7 linked regions of the Homo sapiens genome follow. The protein of the gene in region 1 purifies or fractionates together with the protein of each later gene. This does not show direct contact. Each region holds a gene or a part of one and is shown on either strand. Other genes may lie near its edges.

The links.
Region 2: the proteins of EFEMP1 (region 1) and ZNF398 purify together in Homo sapiens (affinity purification with mass spectrometry; 2 studies listed by BioGRID and IntAct, with this or other methods). This does not show direct contact.
Region 3: the proteins of EFEMP1 (region 1) and ZNF358 purify together in Homo sapiens (affinity purification with mass spectrometry; 2 studies listed by BioGRID and IntAct, with this or other methods). This does not show direct contact.
Region 4: the proteins of EFEMP1 (region 1) and AZGP1 purify together in Homo sapiens (affinity purification with mass spectrometry; 2 studies listed by BioGRID and IntAct, with this or other methods). This does not show direct contact.
Region 5: the proteins of EFEMP1 (region 1) and ANXA2 purify together in Homo sapiens (affinity purification with mass spectrometry, with the first as the bait; one large-scale study listed by BioGRID). This does not show direct contact.
Region 6: the proteins of EFEMP1 (region 1) and ZNF136 purify together in Homo sapiens (affinity purification with mass spectrometry; 2 studies listed by BioGRID and IntAct, with this or other methods). This does not show direct contact.
Region 7: the proteins of EFEMP1 (region 1) and POLR3G purify together in Homo sapiens (affinity purification with mass spectrometry; 2 studies listed by BioGRID and IntAct, with this or other methods). This does not show direct contact.

The regions. Positions count from the first base shown.
Region 1 is NC_000002.12:55,871,783-55,875,282, reverse strand, and holds part of EFEMP1 (EGF-containing fibulin-like extracellular matrix protein 1 precursor), read left to right. Parts: intron 1-217; coding exon 218-337; intron 338-1,314; exon of another isoform or gene 1,315-1,400; intron 1,401-3,500. UniProt on the Homo sapiens protein: Binds EGFR, the EGF receptor, inducing EGFR autophosphorylation and the activation of downstream signaling pathways. May play a role in cell adhesion and migration. May function as a negative regulator of chondrocyte differentiation.
Region 2 is NC_000007.14:149,174,953-149,178,452, forward strand, and holds part of ZNF398 (zinc finger protein 398), read left to right. Parts: intron 1-1,515; coding exon 1,516-1,629; intron 1,630-3,500. UniProt on the Homo sapiens protein: Functions as a transcriptional activator.
Region 3 is NC_000019.10:7,514,896-7,518,902, forward strand, and holds the start of ZNF358 (zinc finger protein 358), read left to right. Parts: upstream 1-1,207; 5' UTR 1,208-1,354; intron 1,355-3,787; exon of another isoform or gene 3,788-3,810; intron 3,811-4,007.
Region 4 is NC_000007.14:99,969,631-99,973,031, reverse strand, and holds part of AZGP1 (zinc-alpha-2-glycoprotein precursor), read left to right. Parts: intron 1-1,025; coding exon 1,026-1,286; intron 1,287-3,401. UniProt on the Homo sapiens protein: Stimulates lipid degradation in adipocytes and causes the extensive fat losses associated with some advanced cancers. May bind polyunsaturated fatty acids.
Region 5 is NC_000015.10:60,349,819-60,352,986, reverse strand, and holds part of ANXA2 (annexin A2), read left to right. Parts: intron 1-510; coding exon 511-604; intron 605-1,167; coding exon 1,168-1,263; intron 1,264-1,735; coding exon 1,736-1,794; intron 1,795-3,168. UniProt on the Homo sapiens protein: Calcium-regulated membrane-binding protein whose affinity for calcium is greatly enhanced by anionic phospholipids. It binds two calcium ions with high affinity. May be involved in heat-stress response.
Region 6 is NC_000019.10:12,169,596-12,173,095, forward strand, and holds part of ZNF136 (zinc finger protein 136), read left to right. Parts: intron 1-3,500. UniProt on the Homo sapiens protein: May be involved in transcriptional regulation as a weak repressor when alone, or a potent one when fused with a heterologous protein containing a KRAB B-domain.
Region 7 is NC_000005.10:90,491,864-90,495,363, reverse strand, and holds part of POLR3G (DNA-directed RNA polymerase III subunit RPC7), read right to left. Parts: intron 1-3,500. UniProt on the Homo sapiens protein: DNA-dependent RNA polymerase catalyzes the transcription of DNA into RNA using the four ribonucleoside triphosphates as substrates.

The sequences.
Region 1 (3,500 bases):
AATAGGACAAGAAGCCAGATCTCTTTATATATATATAGGTAGATATAATTTTTCCTCCTTAAAATATAAATAATTTTAATTATATATAATTATTTTAATATAGATATTTTAAATCTTATAATTTATATATATATATAATTTATATATATATATATATCCAAAGTAGTGGTGCACAAACTTTTCAACTCTGTGTCCTTTCTCTTGTCTAATTCAACAGACATTGATGAATGCAGAACCTCAAGCTACCTGTGTCAATATCAATGTGTCAATGAACCTGGGAAATTCTCATGTATGTGCCCCCAGGGATACCAAGTGGTGAGAAGTAGAACATGTCAAGGTAAGTTTATTTTTTTTTTCATATGTTAGGTATTTAGTTTTAGCCAGGAAGAGACAAGAGGAAGTTATAGGATTCTCCTATAGACTTTCATTTTTCCCACTTTCAATATACAATTTAAGCTCTTTTTTCCCCTGTTCATCATAAAATATATACATCTCATAAAGAGGTGATTCTATGCTAATGCCGACATTTTTCGTCCTTAAAAGATAAATAATTTTAATAAAATATTGATATGTATTCTATGTAACCTACATCATCTCTTTGAGATACATCTTCAAATCATCCACTGGAAAAGATTCAGTTATTAAAATGTTTCACCTGTGAGTTTGAGTTTAGAGCATAAGCTCAATATGTGAGTTAAACATACCTCCATCCAGTCTTAGCCCTCTAAAACACAAGGATTATAAATTGCGTAAGAATGTAGGTGCTGAGAAAAGTCAGCCTAATATGTTGTAAAATATAGTTGAATATTTTAGAGAAAACTACTAGCCCCAAAATAGCTAATGACCTTGGGTCCAGTTTCAAAATAAACATTCAGATGATCTTCACACCTATACGTAAGTGGAAGAGGCAGCTCCCCACAATGGTATGATTTCAGAGTTTCTCAGGAAGATCTAAAAAAAAAAAGGACCCTACCTCCAATGTTGCATGTAGTTGAAAATTTTCTTAACAGGGAAAGGACTGTCAGATAAAACCAAAAACGTAGAAAATCCTGGAAAAGCTAGTACAAACACTTAAATTTACACAAAGCAACAAAAGAATGAAAAAATGACCAAACTTGACAGAAAACCTGTTTGAATCCCAGCTCCACTGTATTCAGTCTGCACAATCTTGAACAAATTATCAAACTACTCTGAGCCTCAGCTTCCTCATTTGGAAAAGGGAGTTGTGGGAATTTAGTGGAATAACATACATAAAAATAATTTGTAAACTATAAAGCTTGTACAGGTCAAGGTGTTTTTATGAAATTTACTTACCAATGTAAGTGACCAGTAGTACGTCTTCTGTAGAGAGTCCTTTTTAATCAGAGTTGGAGTGAAGGCACACAAGGACAATAAAGATCCTGTTAAGAAAAGAAAGATCAAGGAAAGGAGACACTGGGGATTCTCAGTCTATATCATGATTTTACAGGAAAATATTAACTTAGAGGAAATCCATTACCTGGGATTTTATAATAGGCACACAATTTTTCGACTAGACTCCAACCACTGAGTATGAGCATAATCAGAATGTAGTTCATTGCACAATGAACATCTTTATAACCCTTTCCAGGTTACTAGAGACTTTATAAATGTTAATTATGGGAAAACATTGCATTCCAATGATTTTACTTACTGAACCCTAATTGAGACTTTCAACATGCATATTACATGCAAGAAAATGTTAGCTAGTGGAATGTCTTAACAAATTTCTCTGGAGTCCTTCAAACAAATATCTATGTGTTTCTGATCAAAAATTGATTTGATGCTCAGCAAAAGACAGAAGCAGATTAATGCACGGTGGGATCCGACCTGCCTAGCCTATCTATGTGGAAACATTTATATCTATTGTAATTAAAGGTGGAAAATGCACCAAAATTGTAAGTGGGGGATTCCTAAATGTTATATATTGAAGATATGCAGCTTCAGAATGTTTGGTTAAGCCAAAACATTTTTTGTGAAAAAGACTTAGCATTCTTCTAAAGTATAAAGCAATTGCTTTCTCCTACGGAAATCGTTCCTTCTGAGCCTTGTCCACAGGAATAAAATGAAATTGAAAGTTTTGGATTCTTAACTTTCTCTAAAAGACTTATTTTGTGGATGAAATAACTGTTCTCATTTCACAGGCCTATACAAATGAAAACTGTGTGTGTGTGTGTGTGTGTGTGTGTGTGTGTGTGGAGAGAGAGACAGAGAGACAAAAGAATACACATACACATAGACACACACTCATCAAATATTTTGAGAGTATTAATTTCTGAAAAATCTTCCAGAATGATTAAGGTGATGATTATGCTAGGCTCTACATTAATGGAAGTAATAAATGAAATTATAAGGTTGTCTTTTGCTTCTGTTGGACTCCATATAACAAATAAGTATTAGTTTTCCCTGTACCTAAACAGCATCTTTATTCTTCAAAAAAGTGGAAAATACTGAAAGGATAAGTCAATTGTGATTTCATTTGAAGAATCTAAGTTTTCTTTCTTCAGCCATAGCCAGCCCAAGAAGACACTTTTTGTAACTGTCTCTTGGAGACTACCTAGCTTTCCCAGTCTGTTCTTGAGTTCCAGATAACTTTAGCCAGTTTGGAAGCTAAAATACTTTTTTTTCCTCCAAAGTCAAGGCATGAATTATTTAGAGTATATGAACTTGAATGAGCCACTAAACCCTTATTTGTTTTTCATCCATATCAAGTGGAAATATCTTTCTCACCTACCTCCACACAGTTTGTGTGAAGAGCAACTTAGTTCAATTTAATATTTCTTAAAAGCCAGATGCTCTATTGCATTAATGCTAGGTGATGAAAGGATTAAAAGATGGGTACAATAACCCTTGCCCTCAAGGAGTTTACAAGCTAATAGAAGGGTTAAGCTAGACATGCAGATTGCAATAATGCAAAGCAGAAAGCAATAAAGGCCCTTAAAAAAGAACACCGGGTATGAGAATTCAAAAGAGATCATATCCCAGCACCTAGCCCATGCTTGGCTTACAGCAAGGATTCAGTAAATTACTTATGGAATGAGTAAATTCATGAATAAAAATATCTCATTGTGGAGAAGGAATGATTCAGAAAAAGTTTACATTGAATAAAATATAAATCACTATTCAAATGTAAAGGGAGACAGACATAGAGATGTAGATATTAATTTTATTTTTATTGTTGTTGTTGTTGTTGTTATAAATGTAATGGCTCTCTAGTAAAACTGTTCTCTCAGATGTCATCTGGAGGCTTCTGATTCCCAAATTTAAAGTCAATCTTTGTCCAGCCTGAGGTAAACACAACCCTTCTTCCCAGGATTCTCTCTCCCTCTGACTTCTTTGGCATTGCCTTTTCCTGGGTTGTCTCCCTGCACTGACAGCCTCTTCCTTAACTTCCTCTTTTTCCTTACAGTCCTAAAATTGCTATGCTCTATGAGGTGGAACACTTCATAGTTTCACTTCCTGTGCTGTGCTTCCTCTGGACA
Region 2 (3,500 bases), on another chromosome or scaffold:
ATGTGTATAACATCTGGAAGAGAACAAAGATAAGATTGGACTATGTTTAATACACTTCAGCTTTTCTTTTAGGTCAGAACAGGAGGTTGGCAAGGCAACTGTTGCATATGCTAAAATCTATTTCCCAAATCGCTCCCCATAACCGATGGTCGTTTGGGCTTTCGTCTTACCCCAGCCTCTTATTTCTGCTTTGAGAACACCTTTAGATTTCAGTGGCGTCTAACTGATTTAGAAGACATTGGGTAAAGTAGTCAGTTCTGTTAATTTGCTGTGAATTAAACCATATTCTGCCCACAAGGCTGTGTTTGAGAAATAACTATAGAGAGCTTCAGGGGACTCTCTGGAGCTTGACAAGCTCTCTTGTCAGCTTGCCAACTTGTCCATTTAGTCCAAAAAAAAAAAAATAATAAAGCCATATAGGCCTAGGTTGTAATAGCTAGCACAGCTGTTTTGGTACTGATCAGATGAGGCATGTTGTGTGCAAAGCCGATATTGGCTGTGCACTTTTTCTTTCAGAAAGAACCCCCAAGACCTGAAGGACTTGCCAATACTATATTCTTCCCCCTCCCAGCATTTAGGAAACAATGACTTGTATCATTTAATAGACAAAGATAATATATCTCATAGAAAGAGCCCAGAATTGGGAATCTGAAAAGTGTGTTTCTAGGGAGTTGGATTCTGTGTCTATACTGAACTAACTTTGTAATTCTGGAAGTTGATTTGTTTTTTGTTTGTTTGTTTGTTTTGAAATGGAGTTTTTTTGCTCTTGTTGCCCAGGCTGGAGTGCAATGGTGCGATCTCGGCTCACTGCAGCCGCTGCCTCCCAGGTTCAAGCAATTCTCTTGCCTCAGTCTCCTGAGTAGCTGGGATTACAGGCGCCTGCCACCACGCCTGACTAATTTTTTTTATTTTTAGTAGAGACAGGGTTTTGCCACGTTGGTCAGGCTCATCTTGAACTCTTGACCTCAAATGATCCACTTGCCTCGGCCTCCCAAAGTTCTGGGCTTACACGCGTGAGTTACCACACCCATCCTGTATGCATTTTTTAAAAGGCTGGTTCTGTGTTATTGTTATAGTTATTTAGAAATAAATATTTGGGGCCGGGCGCGGTGGCTCAAGCCTGTAATCCCAGCACTTTGGGAGGCCAAGGTGGGCGGATCATGAGGTCAGGAGATCGAGACCATCCTGGCTAACACGGTGAAACCCCATCTCTACTAAAAACAAAAAAATTTAAAAAAAACTTAGCTGGGCGTGGTGGCAGGCGCCTGTAGTCCCAGCTACTCGGGAGGCTGAGGCAGCGGGGAGAATGGCTTGAACCTGGGAGGCGGAGCTTGCAGTGAGCCATCGTGCCACTGCACTCCAGCCTGGGTGACAGAGCGAGACTCTGTCTCAAAAAAAGAAAAAAAGAAAGGAAAAATATTTGGGGCAAAATATAGTGTTCAGCAAACCAACTTGATTATCTTACCTTCTTATTCAAGTTCATGAAGGCCATTTTTTTTTCCTCCCACAAATTAGAGCCTGGTATTTCAACATCAGATATTCTGTCTTGGATTAAACAAGAAGAAGAGCCTCAGGTTGGGGCCCCACCGGAGTCCAAGGAGAGTGACGTGTACAAAAGCACTTATGCTGGTGAGTATGAAATTAAAGAGGTGTTCATGTCCATATCCAGCTCATGCCAGGACTGACTGAAGAAACAGCAGGTGAAATTTGTAGAGGCAAATATGTGGGAGAAGAATGAGGGAAAGAAAAAGCCATGCTCAACATTATGAATGAAACCAAACAGTCACTAAGATAAATTTGAAGTGAGTGAGAAAATACACTCTTACATGCAAAGACAAATGAGAATTGTCAGAAGAAGAAAAACAAGTGCATACAGACGAACCAAAATTATGGGGATGGGGAAAGACAGAAGACGATTTGAAAATCATGTAGAAAGGGTAGAAAACGTGGGAGTGGGGTGGGGAGACAAGCCCTGGAGACAGAAATGGCCATGGAGAGGTGTAAATGGGAATGTTAATTAAGAGCCCTCCCTCAGTGAAAGGAAAATCAATGATGGGAGAAGAAATATAAGTATCTTCCTTCTAAGATACTTTTGCCATTTGTATTGTAGAAGAGAATCTCAAGATCAGAAGGGTCCCAGTCATTTATACAGCTTAATGCATTCTGTTTTTTTTTTAGTATTTTCTGTGCTCTGTGTTCTTTTAGACTGGGAAACACAAATGAAACATAAGATAGTTTTAGCTCTTGAAAAAACTTATGCTAGGGACATACATATCAGTACTAGGCAAGCCTGTTAAGTGTCAAGGATGAGTGGGGTGGACGACTTATATAAATGAATGAGAAGTTTCAGGAACATGCATCAGGTTTGGCTTGGTGACTCGTGCCTGTAAGCCCAGCATTTTGGGAGGAGGTTGAGGCAGGTGGATCACTCGAGCCCAGGAGTTCAAGACCAGCCTGGGTAACATAGGGAGACCCTGTCTCTAAAAAAAAGGAAAATATGCATCAGTTTTAGTTTAGGTATTTAGATAAGACCTAAAGAAGGGCATAAAGCCACAATTGTACCTTAAAAGATTGGTATGATATGGCTGGGTATAATTTGGAAAGATGGGGAGAGAGGGGTAGCATTCTACAAAAGGGAGGACAGAGTAAGTCAAGATGCATAGCAGAAATGTATACTCTGTTCTCAGGGGAAGTAAAGAGACAGCTGACCACAGTGATGGGTTGATCTGATAGAATACAGAGAAATAGGAATAGATAATTATGTGATTTTAGGCTTTGTCACAACAGGCAATAGAGAAAGTTCTTGAGTAGAGGTAAAATATAGTGAAAGTAACGTTGGGAAGATTGATGCCAAGGATTTTCTGTTTCTTAACAGATAGCATAGAAGAGGTACAGTGTTAAATTTTCTGATGAGGGCTGGGTGTGGTGGCTCATGCCTGTAATCCCAGCACTTTGGGAGGCTGAGGCAGGTGGATTACTTGACACCAGGAGTTCGAGACCCCTGGTCAATATGGCAAAACCCCATCTCTACTAAAAATATAAAAATTACCTGAGCACAGCTGGACGCGGTGGCTCATGCCTGTAATCCCAGCACTTTGGGAGGCCGAGGTGGGTGGACCATGAGGTCAGGAGATCGAGACCATCCTGGCTAACACAGTGAAACCCTGTCTCTACTAAAAAGACAAAAAAATTAGTTGGGCGTAGTGGCGGGTGCCTGTAGTCCCAGCTACTCGGGAGGCTGAGGCAGGAGAATGGCGTGAACCCGGGAGGCGGAGCTTGCATTGAGCCGAGTTTGTGCCACTGCACTCCAGCCTGGGCGACAGAGCGAGACTCCGTCTCAAAAAAAAAAAATTACCTGAGCACGGTAGTGCATGCCTGTAATCCCAGCTACTCAGGAGGCTAAGGCAGGAGAATCACTTGAACCCAGGTAGTGGAGGCTGCAGTGAGCTGAGGTCACGCCACTGTACTCCATCGTGGGCAACAGAATGTGATCCTGTCAT
Region 3 (4,007 bases), on another chromosome or scaffold:
GCTGGGATTACAGGCATGAGCTACCGCACCCAGCCTATACTGGGTGGTTTTACAGAGAATTACTAGGGTGGTATTGTCGGGAACCTGGGAGCGCTTTGCTGACTAGGTATTTCAGTGATTTTTGTCTCAGAGGTGGGAGGATGGCAGTTGGGTTGGAATTGTCGTCGGTAAGAAGTGGCAGTCATTTGTGTTCACTTGGAGAGGGGGATGAGAACTCATTTTTGTGGTTGCACAGGGCCCATGTCTCTATCTTGGTTCAGACATGGTCACAGAGTGGCCTTGCCTCATCATTGTTTATATTCTGTGACCATTGTTTATATTTAGTGGAGAACATCGCGGCCCAGCCATCAGGAGCTGATTTCCACTCTCTCTCCTGGCTGGCAGCGGGGATCTGTGTCTCCAAGGAAAGTTTGCCCCGAGCCCTTCCCGGCCCGGCGTAGGGTTCTCCGGAAACCATCACTCACATCTAGCACTTGGAGGCCTCCAGGGACAGCGGTGACCCACCATCTGGGTAGGAGGCTGAAAACACTAGAGGAGGAATATCCCAAATCTGTGCCTTGGCGGGTGTTACCCAGAAAGGGTGACGGGTTTCACCATGCAAAAAGGAAAAATTGGAGGAAGGCCAGGTTAAGCAAAAATAGACATGTTTTTAGATTGCAGAGCTGAGAGGCTTGGCTGTGCCTATGTGCGCTGCAAGTCTCCAAGAACAACATGTGTAGAGTTTTACGAACAAAGATAGAGTCAGAGACATGGGCAGGAGGCAGAGACAGAGAGAGAGAGACAGACAGACACAGAGAGAGATAGAGGCAGAGAAAGCAACAGAGGCAAAGAGATTGGAACACAGAGAAAGAGATGGGGACAGAGACACAGAGAAAGGAACAGAGATGGGAAGACAGGGACAGAGACAGAGAATGAACAGAGATAGAGAGATAGGGACGGAGAGAGACAGAGAGAGGGACAGGGATGGAGAGAAAGAGATAGGGCCAGGGCCACAGAGGGACTGAGACAGGCCCAGGAGGAGACTAGGGATGGGGCCAGGGCTGCGTGCGGGCGGGGCACGGTGCAGACAAAGGCGCGGCCGCGCGGTCGGGGTGGCCTGGCCGGGGACAAAGGCCTGCCCGGGGGGCGGGGGCAGCGATGGCGACGGCCGCGGCGGGCGCGGGCGAACTACAAGTCCCAGCAGCTCCCGCTGCGGCCCTCGGCCGGCCCCTCTCGCTCCCCGGGAGCGCCTGGCGGGGCCGCTGGGCCGAGGGGGCCGCCGGCGGGGCTGGCGGGCGGGGGGCTTCCTGCGGGCCCGGGGGGAGCCGGCGGCCGGCGCGGGCGCGGCGGGCCGGGCAGGGGCGAGGGGCGCCGGGTGAGTGTCCCTGCGAGCGGGCTGGGGCCGGGGCGGGGGGCTGGGTGGGGGGCGGGCGGGCGGGGGAGCTCCAGGCGCGGGGCGCAGCCCGGGGCGACCTCTAATCGTCCCCCGCCCTGCGCGCCGCCGGCCCTGGCCCAGGCGAGCGGGGGTCGCGGGAGCGATGGGGAGGGGACTCTGCGGCCAGCTCCGGCCTAGCGCACCCATCCCGCCGCTGGGGCCCGGGGGGAAAGGGCCAGGAGGTTGGGAGCCTTCAATCGGGCGGGGTGGGGGGCGCCCGCCAGCTCTGGGGTCTGGAGCTCAGGACGCCCCCTCCCTAGGAGGCGATCCAGGACCCCCTCCCCTCCTGATTCGAGGTATTGTTCCCACCTCCCGCCTGGGGTCTGGAGTTCAGGAGGCCCTGTCCTCAAAAGGGGGACCTAGGGGTTCCCTCTTCCCCCAGGACCCTAGGAAGGGTCCCAGCGATTGTTCCCTTGCCCCTCCAGTCTTGGGGTCTGCAGTTCTGGAAGCTCCTTTCCCTGGAGGTGATCCAGGGGTCCACCTGCCCTCACCCCTGGGAACTCAGGAAAGACTTAAGTGATTTCTCCTCCCACCTTCCAGTTAAGAGATGGGAATTCAGGGGGCTCCTTCCCCTGGAGGCAATCTAAGGGTTCCTCTGCCCCTGATGCAGGAGGGGTCCCAGGTCTTGTTTCCCCCACTCTCCAACTATGGGGTCTGGGTTGAGGACCGCCGTCCAGGAACTCGGCTCTGTTTGCCTGCACACTCCCAGCTATGGGGTTGTGGCTCAGTGTATTCCTTTCCCCAGAAGGGGAGCCACAGGTCCCCCCACAGCTTCTCCCAGGAGCAGATCATTCATTGTTGACACCTCAACACCCAGCCATGGGGTGGGGAGCTCAAGGCATCCTCCCGGCAGGTCATCCTGGGCTCCCATTGCTCCCCAGAAGTGGTTCCAGCTTTTGTCCCTCTACCTCCCAGTCTGCCCCTAGCCACAAGCTGGCAATTCAGTTCAGGATCCTTCCTGCAGGAAGGGCTACAAGTGTGCTGACACTACCCGCCATGTCCCAGCCATGGGAGGAGATGACTCAGGCGTTCCCCCATTAACTTCAGAGGGTCCCCAGGTATTATTTTTGCCTATCCTCCAGCTAGAAGTTAAAATGCAGGACCTTCTAGCCAATAGGGAAAACAGGTATACTGGCCGGGCATGGTGGCTCATGCCTGTAATCACCATACTTTGGGAGGCTGAGGTGGGAGGATCATTTGAGCCCAGGAGTTTGAGTCCAGCCTGGGCAACATACCAAGACCCCATCTCAAACATAAATAAATAAATAAAACAGGTATACTAACAACTGTCCCCACCATCCTGCCTATGGGGTTCATGAGTCTCCCTACCCATCCCTCCTCACCAGGAGGGGTCCCAAATATCACTCTACCATGCTCACTATCTGGCTGTAGGAAAGGGCATTTCCGATCTGTCTAAGAGAGAGGATTTGACACTGACTCCCACCTGGAGCTGTGAGCTCTGGAATTCAGGTTTTCTTTTCCCCAGAGGGCAAGCCAGAGTCTTCTTGTCTTTCCCCAGTGACTTGGGAGGGATACCTGATGTTATTTGTTCCATATTCTTATCCCCCAGACATGGGTTCTAGAGCTCAGAATGCTGCTGCTGGAGGGGGGCCTCCCTACCAGAACTCGCCCCCTAAATTAATCTGCCGCCTCCAAGTATGGGACAAGAATTCAGGCCATGTGCTCAGGAGCACAGAAACGCTGACACCCACACTGTTCCCCATGTGGGGACGCCCAGCAAGGGGGTAGGAAGCTAGGACTGTCTCCTCCACAGGACCCCAGCTTCCCACAAGAGGAGCCCAGGTTGGAGAGAGGTGCAGAGCCATGGAGTTGGGGACTAGAAACCTCTAGTGCTGGGTCTCATGACCTCCGTCCAGGTTTGGGGCTGAGAGGGGAGGGTCCTACCATGTCCCACCTGGTTCCCTCAACTCCCTGCCCTGGCTGGGGTAAGTCAGAAATCTCCTTGCAGTCAGAGACAAGGGAAGGATCCACGTGTATGCTCAGAAGTGAGTGGGGTTTGGCCAGGCACAGTGGCTCATGCCTGTAATCCCAGCACTTTCTGAGGCCAAGGCCAGAGGTTTGCTTGAGTCCAGGAGTTTGATACCAGCCTGGGCAACATAGCGACACCCCATCTCAAAAAAGAGAGACAGAGGGAGAGAGAAAGGAAAGAAGGAAGGAAAGAAGGAAGAAGAGAGAGAAGGAAGGAAAAGAAGGAAGGAAGGAAAGAAAGAAAGAAAGAGAGAGAGAGAGAAAGAAAGAAAGAAAGAAAGAAAGAAAGAAAGAAAGAAAGAATTGAAGTTAGCTGAGTGTGGTGGTGCATCTGTAATTCCAGCTACTTGAGAGGCCGAGGTGGGAGGATCGCTTGAGCCCGGGAGTTCCAGTCTGCAGTGAGCTATGTATGATCACATCACTGCACTCTAGCCTGGGTGACAGAGTGAGACCCCATCTCAAAAAAATAAAAATAAAGAAGTGGGGCTGGGCGCGGTGGCTCACGCCTGTAATCCCAGCACTTTGGGAGGCTGAGGCATGCAGATCACCTGAGGTCAGGAGTTTGAGACCAGCCTGTCTAACATGCTGAAATCCCATCTCTACT
Region 4 (3,401 bases), on another chromosome or scaffold:
CATTCTCCTGCCTCAGCCTCCTGAGTAGCTGGGACTACAGGCACCCGCCACCATGCTTGGCTAATTTTTTGAATTCTTAGTAGAGACGGGGTTTCACCATGTTAGCCAGGATGGTCTCGATCTCCTGACCTCGTGATCCACCCGCCTCGGCCCCCTAAAGTGCTGGGATTACAGGCGTGAGCCACTGAGCCCGGACGAAATGTTAATTTGTTTTTTTTGAGACGGAGTCTCACTCTGTCATCCAAGCTGGAGTGCAGTGGCATGATCTTGGCTTGTTGCAACCTCTGCCTCTCTGGTTCAAGTGATTTTCCTGCCTCAGCCTCCAGCATGACTGGGATTACAGGCCCGCACCACCATGCCCAGCTAATTTTTGTATTTTTTAATAGAGATGGGGTTTCACCATGTTGGCCAGGCTGGTCTTCAACTCCTGATCTCAAGTAATCTGCCTGCCTTGGCCTCCCAAAGTCCTGGGATTACAGGCATGAGCCACGGAGCCCAGCCTAGAAATGTTAATTTCTAACGCATGTCAGATTCCATGCACACTGGGCAAGGTTCCATTCCTCCATGGGGTGACTCAGGGATCCAGGCCAATTGCATATTGAGACTCTTTCATATTATCCTGTGGCCTTCAAAGTCGTCACCTCTAGGGATGAGAAACAAAAGGGACAAGCCAGCTGGTAGGGTCTTGGACAAGAAGAAAGACATCACTTCTGCTCACATTCTCTTTTGACAAAACTCAGTCACATGGTCCCAATATATCTTCGAGGTGGCTGAGTAATGTTATCTTCCTATGTGTCAAGCAGAGGAAATAATGTAGTGAAGACACAGGATGGTCTCTGAAATATCATCTCAGGCATGAAAGTAGAGCATATTCACTTGAGTGAGCCTCCAGTGGTGTGAAGTTGATGGCAGGAGAAAGAGCTGGGGAAGAAAAGGCCAGTGGCAGGTCTCCCCTCCTAGCCCTATGCAGCCCCACAGTGGGACCCTTGCATGGACCTCAACCATCAGAATCTTTTCTTTTGCAGGTCGTTACTCTCTGACCTATATCTACACTGGGCTGTCCAAGCATGTTGAAGACGTCCCCGCGTTTCAGGCCCTTGGCTCACTCAATGACCTCCAGTTCTTTAGATACAACAGTAAAGACAGGAAGTCTCAGCCCATGGGACTCTGGAGACAGGTGGAAGGAATGGAGGATTGGAAGCAGGACAGCCAACTTCAGAAGGCCAGGGAGGACATCTTTATGGAGACCCTGAAAGACATCGTGGAGTATTACAACGACAGTAACGGTCAGTGAATAACAGACCACAGGGGTGGAAGGTCTAACCCAAGAGGCAGCCCCCCCAGTGTGAGTGGCAAGGGATCAGCAGGATGGAAATAGTCCCAATCCCAGGGGAAGAACAGGAGACACAGCAGAAACACAGACATGTCCACATCCCACCCACCCCACAGCACAGGTGCTCCCCGCTTCCCCATCAATTGCCCCATCCTCATCCCAGGCCTCAGGTCACACAGGAAGTGATGGCAGAGTCACTTCCTATCCAGGCACCTATGACCTCTCACCTCCACACCCCACCCATCGGAGGCTGATACCCCCGTGAGAAGGCATCAGACTCACCCCTGTCCAGGGAGGTTGCCTGGAGAGTGAGCCACTCTCAAAGTCACTCAGACCTGGGCTCACCTGGTGGTTCTGCCAGTCCTAGCTGTTGACAGTGAAACGTTCCCAAAATATCTGGTTGAAATCTGCAAACATTGGAGCACTGAGACCTACCTCCAAACAAGTCTGTAATATTTAACTATGTCTGTTCTATGAAGGATGTCACAGTCTGTCCTGATCTCCCTTGCAGCTCCATCACCTAGCACAGGGTACAGCCAATATTGGCTCAATTGAAATTTGTGGAATCAACAGAGAAAAGCACCCAGCACACACCGTAGCCCATGCTGGGGGCTCAGGAAGTGCTGGATTCAAAACTGTGGGCTGTTAGAGTTCCTTGGAGCCCTAAAGTTCCTCCTTACCATACGATGCAGACCCAGGAAGGGCCACCTGCGCTATGGTCAGAGGAGCTGGTGGCAGAGCCCGTGCAGAGATGGTCCCTGTGCCCCCGGCCCAGTGCTCTTTCTCCTAAACCACACTGCCAGCCCCAAGGCAGCCAACCTCAGGTCTGGTGAACTGCTGGTGTTAAATTATCATAGAGTGGGTGTCAAAAGATGGGCTACTAAGTACAAAAATGCCCAAGGTGCTACATGGGATCTGAAGATTTTCAAAAGGAGGCAAGAAAGAGATAGGCAGATGTTTCAAGGATGTGGGGTGGGGGAGGTCTTGGTAAGGAAAATGGCCCAGGCTGTGTGTCAGCAATAGGAGAGGAGGGGGCACAGGTGATCAGAAAAGACACTGGGGGAAGCATTGATGGACAGGAATAGAAATGGCAAAGTGGATAATTAAGAGGAAGGAGGATGAGGAGATGAACACAGGGTATTAGAAAATAATAGAAGGCAGGGCTTGGTGGCTCACTCTTGTAATCCCAGCACTTTGGGAGGCTGAGGCAGGCAGATCACCTAAGGTCAGGAGTTCGAGACCAGCCCGGCCAACATGGTGAAACCCTGTCTCTACTAATAATACAAAAATAGCCTGGCATGGTGGCACACGTCTGTGGTCCCAGCTACTCAGGAGGCTGAGGCAGGAGAATTGCTTGAACCCAGGAGGCAGAGGTTACAGTGAGCCAAAATCCTACCATTGCACTACAGCCTGGGTGACAAGAGTGAAACGTTGTCTAAAAACAAAAAACAAAAAACAAAAAAAGGAAATAATAGTAGCTGACATTTACTGAGCACTTACTTTGTGCCAGGCCCATCTATGAGCATATATAATGCTCAGAATAGCCCCCTAAAACAGTGCTCTTGGCATTGCCATTTCAGAGGTGAGGAAATAGAGGCACAGGGAGTTGAGTGGCTCCAGTTCAGGCAACACACCAGGTGGGGGTGGGGGGCTGGGGAGAGACCTGGGACGTGAGCCCAGACAGCTTGAGAGCTTTCAGAGTCTATGCCAACAGCACCAACCAGTGCTGGGTAAACACCTGCTTTTATCATCAGAACAAAGAGGCTGTGTCCCCTGCCCTATGAGGTCCATTTCTGAGAGTTGTGGCTAATGGGCAAGAAGGTTGGGGCTTTAGAGATTTGGGATAAAGATATCAAACACCAGAAAGGTAGAAAGAAGTGATCAGATTAGGGTTACTTAGGTGATGATATGAACTCTTCCTAGAACTGAGAGAAAAAGAGAGCCTTCCTTTACTCATATGAAATCACAAATAATTTCTATCCAATTTGGAAGTACACTTTGGTGTAGTTGTGACAGCTTCCTCAGGACTCAGCATAAATTCAAACAAATAATTGTCCTTAGAAGAGAT
Region 5 (3,168 bases), on another chromosome or scaffold:
ATTGTTAGGGCTACTTGTAGCCCCTAAATTTTCCAGAAACTGAAAGTGAGATGAGATGGGCTCCTTTTCCAGCTCCATCACTCCCTGAGTCTCTGAGAAGCTTGAGAATGAGAGCCTGGTCTGTAGCTGTCCAGTAAACATCTGCTAGCTTATCTGCCCCTAAATGTGCCCAAAGGGAGGAGGGCCAGATGTGTTAATGAACATTTACTTGTTCTTCTTTATATGAATACAAGCTCTTGGTCCCTCCTTTCTTATTCAAGGAAGGAGATTGTACAGCAGACCTCACGAACTATCTGCAGTCTCATATGGTATCCATCTGTGCCTAAGGAAGACTGCTTGTGATTAAGACTTTTGACCTAAATAGTAGGTCTCTGCCCATGTCTGCAGTATAATCATCTTTCCTCGTTTGGCATTTTGAATGTGTAGCTTTTTTTGTTTTTTTTGCATGACATTTTTTTTGACGTTACATTGGATGTGTAGTTAACTTTTCCTGGTTGGTTGTACTCGTAGGATCTCTATGACGCTGGAGTGAAGAGGAAAGGAACTGATGTTCCCAAGTGGATCAGCATCATGACCGAGCGGAGCGTGCCCCACCTCCAGAAAGGTGGGCACTGTGCTGAGGGAGTCTCAGTGCCTTGGGGCCCTGGCTGGGGCGGCTGGGTGGATGTCCATGTTGGGATGGAGTCTGCCAGAATGAGGTTCTGTCTCCGCTTGGCACTCTCATAGGCTCACCCATTTTCCCTCACCTTTCTCTCCCATTCTGGATTCTTTTCTCTTGCAAATAGTTTCTGCATTTGGTGCTTTATTCTGCAGCTCCTTCTTGTTTGATGATCATTTGGTCTTGCCATTATTTGTTGAAGTAGTGGACTTTGGTGCATGCTCTGTACTGTTTCCTATGGTTTTCGGATGGAATGGGTTCCACTCAGGGGAGATAGAGATGGTCCAAATATGTGGCCTGGGCAGTGCCATTCAGGACAGGTGGTATGGCTGTTCCACGACAAACTTGGCCAATGTTGGCTCTGGTCACCGTGGTAACCTCTAAGCTCCTAGGATGCTGTGATCATCCTCAATTTTTAAAAAAATTATGGTGCATAAAACTAGGTGGGTGATCGTTGACAGCTTTGACTAGTGGCTCGGATCTGATAACTCTTTGTTGTTTTTCCTCAGTATTTGATAGGTACAAGAGTTACAGCCCTTATGACATGTTGGAAAGCATCAGGAAAGAGGTTAAAGGAGACCTGGAAAATGCTTTCCTGAACCTGGGTAAGTGAATGTGGCCCCCATTCCTGGTAGACATCAGCTACCAGAGCAGAAGTGACAGATGGCCATCCTGTTAATCCAAATGTGTTTGGGAGGTGTGGCTTCTATGCATGCTTTGGATAGTTTTACAGTCTTAATTGTATAGATTTCAGAATATAAAACTGAAGAAAGGCCTAACTTGGTAACAGATTGTTGCCAGGGAGGAGTAAGAGAACAGGAGGAGAGAGGGGTGTGTTGTGGAAACTCACGTATGCACTTGGGTTCTGCAGGCCTCAGAGACCCCTGGTTTAAAACCGTGGTGGAACTTAGTATTGCAGAGGATTTCTAGATTTCCCTTAGCCTGTCCTATTTTGCAGCCCTTTTCCATTGCATTAGGTCACTTCTGGTTTGTGGCCCAGGGCCAGGGCATCCTCTCTCATTGGTAGAGGAGAGACCAGAGCAGCTGCAGCGCTGACTCCCTTTCTTCTCTCCACAGTTCAGTGCATTCAGAACAAGCCCCTGTATTTTGCTGATCGGCTGTATGACTCCATGAAGGTAAGGGCAGCTGGCTGAGAGAGCTGTGTTTCCACACTCAGCTTTTCTTCTTTTGGGTCCCAAATTGAGTCTCCTTGATTCATGGATGGAGGAAGGGGACCCCACTGTGTGGATGCAGGAACACACTAGTCAGCTGTGGTTGTATGTGACAGCTGAGAGAACCACAAATCTGTCTTCTTTCTCTCAGCTGCTTGAACATGTATTTGCGTACAGACAAAAAGTAAAGTGCCATGGGAGAGAGAAAATGCGACATGGTAGTCGTGTCTGATCCCTGCTTAGGTTTCTCCGTGATTTCTTCCTGTTACTGCCAGAGTCAAGACAAGCGAGGAAGGGAGCGATTATTAAGCACCCACTATACAGTGGACAAGTGCTACTATTTTACCTTAAATCATTGCATAACAACCTCTGAGGCTTATGATTATCTTCTTTATAAATGCAGAGATGGAGCTCAGAATACCTCAGCCTGCTTGAAGTTACACAGACAGATTTGAACCTGGGTCTATCAGACCCCAAAGACAGCCCCACAACCCTTCCCTAAACGAACCACCTCTTCCCGTAGACCCATCCCATTTTCTACACCTCAAGTGTGCCATGTGTTTTCTGGCTTCTAGGCTTTTGCATTTTCCTTCTGGAACATCTCCCTTGTCTGTGCTGCCTCTGCCATCTGTCTTTGAGTTCCATATCAAATAGCACCCCTTGGTGCCTTCGCTCTGATGCTCTGGAAGTAAACTCAGTGGTCTTTATTGCACATATCATTAGAAATGGCACAGAGCGATGATAGAAATGTGTTGGCATGTTCCCTCTAAGCCTGCAAGAGTCAGGAACCTCTTGTTACATATGGAGACTCAGACTGCTTGAACTGAGCCTTGCAGTAGTAGGTGCTCAGTATATATTTATTGAATGGTGGCATAGAGTGGGAGTCTGTGCTGACTACAGCCTGGTGTGTTTGGAATTCCCAGATGCTCTTCTTTCTTTTCTTTTCTTGTCTTGTCTTTTTTTTTCTTTCTTTTTTCCTCCCTCCCTCCCTGCCTTCCCCTGCCTCCCTGCCTTCCCCTCCCTCCCTGCCTTCCCCTCCCTCCCTGCCTTCCCCTCCCTCCCTGCCTTCCCCTCCCTCCCTGCCTTCCCCTGCCTCCCTGCCTTCCCCTCCCTCCCTGCCTTCCCCTGCCTCCCTGCCTTCCCCTCCCTCCCTGCCTTCCCCTGCCTCCCTGCCTTCCCCTCCCTCCCTGCCTTCCCCTGCCTCCCTGCCTTCCCCTGCCTCCCTGCCTTCCCCTGCCTCCCTGCCTTCCCCTGCCTCCCTGCCTTCTCCTGCCTCCTTGCCTTCCCCTGCCTCCCTGCCTTCACCTCCCTCCCTTTCCTTCCCCTCCCTCCCTTTCC
Region 6 (3,500 bases), on another chromosome or scaffold:
GTACTGATTCTGAATTTTTTTTTTTTTTTTTGAGACGGACTCTCGCTCTGTTGCCCAGGCTAGAGTGCAATGGAGCGATCTTGGCTCACTGCAAGCCCAGCCTCCCGGGTTCATGCGATTCTCCTGCCTCAGCCTACCGAGTAGCTGGGACTTACAGGCGCCCGCCACCACACCCGGCTAATTTTTTTGTATTTTTATTTTTATTTTTATTTTTTTTGAGACAGAGTCTCTCTCTGTCCCCCAGGCTGGAGTGCAGTGGCGTAATCTCGGCTCACTGCAAGCTCTGCCTCCCGGGTTGACGCCATTCTCCTGCCTCAGCCTCCCAAGTAGCTGGGACTACAGGCGCCTGCCACCACGTCCGGCTAATTTTTTGTATTTTTAGTAGAGACGGGGTTTCACTGTGTTAGCCAGGGTGGTCTCGATCTCCTGACCTCGTGATCTGCCCACCTTGGCCTCCCAAAGTGCTGGGATTACAGGCGTGAGCCACCACGCCCGGCCATTTTTTTGTATTTTTAGTAGAGACGGGGTTTCGCTGTGTTAGCCAGGGTGGTCTCAATCTCCTGACCTTGTGATTCACCCACCTTGGCCTCCCAAAGTGCTGGGATTACAGGCGTGAGCCACCGCGCCCGGCCTTTTGTGGTTTCTTTGCCTCAGTCCGTTGCACACATGCTGCTGTCTGAGGCTGTGGGTCACCCAGGTTACTAACCATTCCACTGCTTGATTTGAGTTGTTAGTATTTTATCTGTTGCCAATGTAATTGTTGTTTTTGTCTCCAAGTGCTAATGCTTCATAAACTTCTTTTTTTTTTTTTGAGGCAGGTCTTCTTCTGTTGCCCAGACTGAAGTGCAGTGGTGCAATCACAGCTCACTGCAACCTTGGCCTCCCAGGCTCAAGCAATCCTTCCATCTCACCCTCCCAAGTAGCTGGGACTACAGGCGTGTGCCACATGCCTGATTAATGGTTGTATTTTTTTATAGAGATGGGGTCTTGCCATGTTGCCCAGCACTCAAACCCTTGGGCTCAGCACTGGGATTATAGGCATGAGCCACTGTGCCCAGCCATGCTTCATAAATTTTTTTTTTTTTTTCGAGACGGAGTCTCGCTCTGTCGCCAGGCCAGGCTGGAGTGCAGTGGCGCGATCTCAGCTCACTGCAACCTCTGCCTCCTGGGTTCAAGTGATTCTCTTGCCTCAGCCTCCCAAGTAGCTGGGATTACAGTCACATGCCACCACACCCAGCTAATTTTTTTTTTTTTTTTGAGACGGAGTTTCACTCTTGTTGCCCAGTCTGGAGTGCAATGGCAAAATCTCAGCTCACTGCAACCTCTGCTTCCCAGGTTCAAGTGATTCTCCTGCCTCAGCCTCCAGAGTAGCTGGGATTATAGGCATGCACCACCACGCCCGGCTAATTTTGTTTTTTTAATAGAGACAGGGTTTCTCCATGTTGGTCAGGCTGGTCTTGAACTCCTGACCTCAGGTGATCTGCTTACCTTGGCCTCCCAAAGTGCTGGGATTACAGGCATGAGCCACTGCGCCAGGCCCCACCCAGCTAATTTTTTTTATTTTTAGTAGAGATGGGGTTTCACCATGTTGGCCAGGATGGTCTTGATCTCTTGACCTCGTGATCTGCCTGCCTCGGCCTCCCAAAGTGCTGGGATTACAGGTGTGTGCCACCGCACCTGGCTGCTTTGTAAGTTTTTTATACATTGGAAAAAAAAATCCCTGGGATGTAGCTTATAGATAGATTGACTTGGGAATGCCAATGGAATATATGGATTAACCATCTGACCATGTATGCATGTGTATTTACTCCTTATAAGTAGTTCTCTTTATTTTTCTCTGTGTGATTACATGTTGCTTTTTACACTAGGATTGAGCATTTTTTCTGTGTGGCCTTTCATCTTCTGTAAAATAGTTTTCAGTCATCTTGTCACATTAAAGTCATTTGTATATTTATTGCTTCATTTCTTCCCTTTTTTCTTTTTTTAACTTACTCTGTAGGCTAATTCTTTTTCATTTATAGGGATTGCTAATATTTTGTTCCAGGGAGTGATTTATCTTTTCACTCCATTCTACATTTTGATGGACTCTTAAATTTTTTTGTTTGTTGGCTTTTTTGGCCGCCTTCTGCATGCACCATCATCAAGGGTGGGGAAGGGTACTCTTCTTGATTTTAATTGAGTTGACTTTGGCTCTTCCTTTCAGGCCTACTTAATTTTCTTGTAAGAGAACATTCTAGAGAGTGTATATTTAGGGCAACTTGAATCTGTGCTCCCAGGTTAAATAAAGAACACTCTCCCTACTGTCAAGTTGGAAAAAAAATTGTAACTTATGAAAGTTTGCTACTTTTTAAAATTTTAAAATTTTTTATTTTCTCTCTCTCTCTTTTTTTTTTTTTTTTTGGAGACAGAGTCTCGCTCTGCCACCCAGGCTGGAGTGCAGTGGCATGATGTTGGCTCATTGCAGCCTTCGCCTCCTGGCGTCAGGTGTTTCCAGTGCTTCAGCCTTCCGAGTAGCTGGGATCGCAGGTGTGAGCCACCATGCCCGGCTAATTTTTGTAGTTTTAGTAGAGACAGGGTTCCTGACCTCAAGTGATCTACTTGCCTTGGCCTCCCAACATGCTGGGATTACAGACGTGAGCCACTGTGCCTGGCTGCTTTTGTTTTTAAGAGGTTTGTGTTTTTCTGATTTGATCTTGTTTATAGCTGGAGACTGGCTAAAACTTTATCCCTGTCCTGGTGTGGCTCTGGGGGATTTCTTGGAGGATATTTAAAATGTGCCTTTCAAGGGATATTTCTTCATTCTGTTGGAGGGCCTGATGCCTAGATGTTATACCCATGACCAGGTGTCCCTCTCACAGCACACTTGTTTATACTTGCTCTGTACAAGCAGGCACCTTGTAGATCTTGTCTGACCATTGTCAGTTTAATCCTAGACTAGAGTAGCCACTAATCCGGTATCTATTAGTGGCTAATAAACACTACCACTCTGTTCCTACCAAGAGAGCCCCGATTATGATAGTAGTTAGGTTCAAATAGTAGTCAGGTGTGTCAGTTAGGCAATTAGGTGAGACTCGGAGGAGACAATTCAACAAACACAGGAAATAACAGAAGGAGTTTATTACTTATAAATCCCAGAGGCCGGCTGTGGTGGCTCACGCCTGTAATCCCAGTACTGTGGGAGGCTGAGGCAGGCGGATCACGAGGTCAGGAGATCGAGACCATCCTGGCCAACATGGCGAAACCCTGTCTCTACTAAAAATACAAAAATGAGCTGGGTGTGATGGTGCGTGCCTGTAATCCCTGCTACTCGGGAGGCTGAGGCCAGAGAATCACTTTAACCAGGGAGTCGGAGGTTGCAGTGAGCCGAGATTGCGTCACTGCACTCCAGCCTGGCGACAGAGCCAGACTCCATCTCAAAAAAAAACAAAAAAATTCCCGGAGAGAGGAGAGTAGCATGTCTTGTAGGCCAGCAGGTAGGTGGAACTATTTGTGACACATAC
Region 7 (3,500 bases), on another chromosome or scaffold:
TCCACCTTATCACAAGAAACACCCTTAAGGAGGGCACAAACTCTTTTCCAGCAGCACAAGTTGGAAAGCAACACTATCACACAAAAGCTTGAAGCCATGTTCATCATAAAAAGTAGTTCAGGAGTTAGGCATGAAAAAGGGAAGGTAATACTAAAGATGAATGGATAAAAATCAAGGACCAAATATATACTGATTTTTCTTCTATGTCAAGTATATGCTTCCAAATAATACAACCACGTATTAGAGAAAGATAACCAAAATAAGTAGTAGATCAGAGACCAAGAGATCAGGTTTTTCTAGGTATTTTAACTGTTTGACTTCAGGTAAAATGTTTTAACTAATCTTGCCAAGTTTTTAATCTATAAAACGAAGTCAGCACAAATGAGAGATTCCTAGAATTTGTAACACAATGACTTCTTTTTAAGAATTTTCTCCAAAACAGTTTCCATATTTTAAATAATTTTAACCCTCAGTATACCGGAAAAAAACAGTTTTTACCCTTTTTCTCTGGGTACAGTAGACCACTTTTTATATTTTAAAATATTTTTAAGTTAATTTCAAATAATGAAATACAGAGAATAAATAAAAAAGATAACAGATAAAAGAACAGATATTGAAAACCAATTATTGGAACCCAATTAAAAAGAGGTAAAGGATTTGAATAGACAATTCTCTAAAGAAGATACAAAAATGGACAAAAAGCATGAAAAGATGTCCAACATCACCAATCATTACGGAAATTCAAATCAAAACCACAATGAGATACTGTGTTACAACCACTAGGATGGCTAGAATAAAAAAAAAATAAGAAATGTTGGCAAGGATATGGAAAAATTGGAACTCTCATACATTATTGATGGGAATGTAAAATCGGGTGGCCACTTTAGAAAACTGTTTGGCAGTTCCTCAAAATGTGAAATACAGAGTTACCATATGATCCTATGTATATACCCAATATAAATGAAAACATGTCTTCACATAAAACATGTACATGAATGTTTATGACAAGATAACTCATGTAATCCCAAAAGTGAACTGACCCAAATGCCCATCAAGTGATGAGTGGATAAACAAAATGTGGCATATATCCATACAGTGGAATATTATTCAGCCATAAAAAGGAATGAAGCACTCATATGTACTAAGCCATGAATGAACCTTGAAAACATTATGGCAAGTGAAAGAAGCCAAAGACACATGTTACATCATTCCATTTATATGACATGGAATCTCTAGAGACAGAAAGCAGATTTCTGGTGCCATGGGTTGGAAGGAGGGAGAGTAGGGAATGACTACTAAAGGGTACAGAATTTCTTTTCTAGATGATGAAAAGCATCTAAAAAATTAGATAGTGGCTGGGCACAGTGGCTCACACCTGTAATCCCAGCACTTTGAGAGGCTGGGGCAGGTAGATTGCTAATAGGTCAGGAGTTCAAGACCAGCCGGGCCAACATGGTGAAACCCCATCTATACTAAAAACACAAAAAAATTAGCCATGTGTGGTGGCACGTGCCTGTAATCCCAGCTACTTGGGAGACTGCGGCAAGAGAATCACTTGAATCCAGGAGGTGGAGGTTGCAGTGAACTGAGATAATGCCACTGCATTCCAGCCTGGGTAACAGAGCAAGACTCTTGTCTCAAAAAAAAAAAAAAAAAAAAAAAAAAAAAAAAAAAAAAAAAAAAAAAATTAAATAGTGGTGTTGATTGCACAACTCTGTGGCTATATTAAAAGTCACTGAATTGTACACTTTAAAAAGTAAATTTTATATAGTGGATTATGTCTCAGTAAAGCTGTTACTTAAAAATCAATAAAACTAGGCCCAACACAGTGGCTCAGGATGTAATCCCAGCACTTTGGGAGGCCAAGGCAGCTGGATCCCTTGAGTCCAGGAGTTCGAGACCAGCCTGAGCAACATGGTGAAACCCCCATCTCTACAAAAAATGCAAAAATTAGCTGGGCATGGTAGCTCATGCCAGTGGTTCCAGCTACTTGGGAGGCTACGGTGGGAGGATCACTTGAGCCTGGGAGGTGGAGGCTGCAGTGAGCTGAGATTATGCCACTGCATTCCAGCCTGGGTGACAGAACGAGATCCTGTCTCAAATAAAAATAAATAAATAAAGTTATTGGAGATTTTACTAAGCAATTAAGTATAGCAAATCCAAATTTATATTACATGTTTTACTGATTTTGAAGGTAAATTTAACCAAAATGGGCAAAGTCATTTGAATGCAGTTTTCTGTGCATCGGCTGCCACATACAAACCTAGAATATATGCCTTCTGTACGTCCTGATCCCAGATTCCAAAGACATCTTTAATAGGTTCTAACTTATAATTTCCTCTGGTTTTCTCATATGTGTATCATCTAAATAATTTCAGATTATAAATGCATTTCTAGTAGAATCTAGCTTATCACTACTTCCAATTCTTCTTCTTGTACTTACATATCCAAAATGCAATACTTTAAAAAACTTTGATGTCTCATACTTTTTTTTTTTTTTTTTGAGGCGGAGTCTTGCCCAGGCTGGAGTGCAGTGGCACAATCTCGGCTCACTCCCAGGTTGACTCCACTCTCCTGCCTCAGTCTCCCGAGTAGCTGGGAGTACAGGTGCCCTCTACCACGCCTGGCTAATTTTTTGTATTTTTAGTAGAGACGGGGTTTCACCATGTTAGCCAGGATGGTCTTGATCTCCTGACCTCGTGATCCACCTGCCTCAGACTCCCAAAGTGCTGGGATTACAGGGGTGAGCCACTGCGCCCGGCTGATGTCTCATACTTCTATTGAAGAGAGGATGGCCCAGCCATCTTCTTTGCTCTATACTTGCAAAATATTTTCATTATTAAATTTATAATCACCAGTTAACACAATCAATCCAGAAAACAATTTCATGTCTATATAATCAATTTCCTTTCAATCATTGTTGTCTTTGCCTTTATGTTCAGCATTTGTCAGTTACAAAACACATCAAATTAATTTTGGTGCACAAATATCATAGAACAAAAATGATCGTCTCATTTTAGCAAACAGGATGTTCCAGGTTTTTGTTACAAAGTATTACATGATGAGTTCTTTTTCAAAGATTGACTGTAGAAGGCCACCATAATTCCTTTTTAATTCTTGGAGATACAGTGTTTACTCATTGATTCTTGAATTTGAGAAAATTCATTGAAGACACTGTCATCTGAAGACTCACAGTCTGAGATTTTGCTTATACAATCAATTTCATCATCATCATGAGCATCCAGAGAGCTATCTATCTCTTTGCATTTGACTTCTGATTCGTCTAAGAATTGTGGAACATGTTTTTCTGTCAATTTTAGACATTATGAGCAAAAAATTAAAAATTTTTGAAATTTTCAATTGTATTAAATGAAAATTAAAACAGAGCAACTACAAACATAAGAGTCTCTGAAGACTTTATAACTTCTTAAAAAACAGATGTAATGCTTTGGACAACACCATAGGAAAACTATATGATGACATAATAGTGATAATTTATT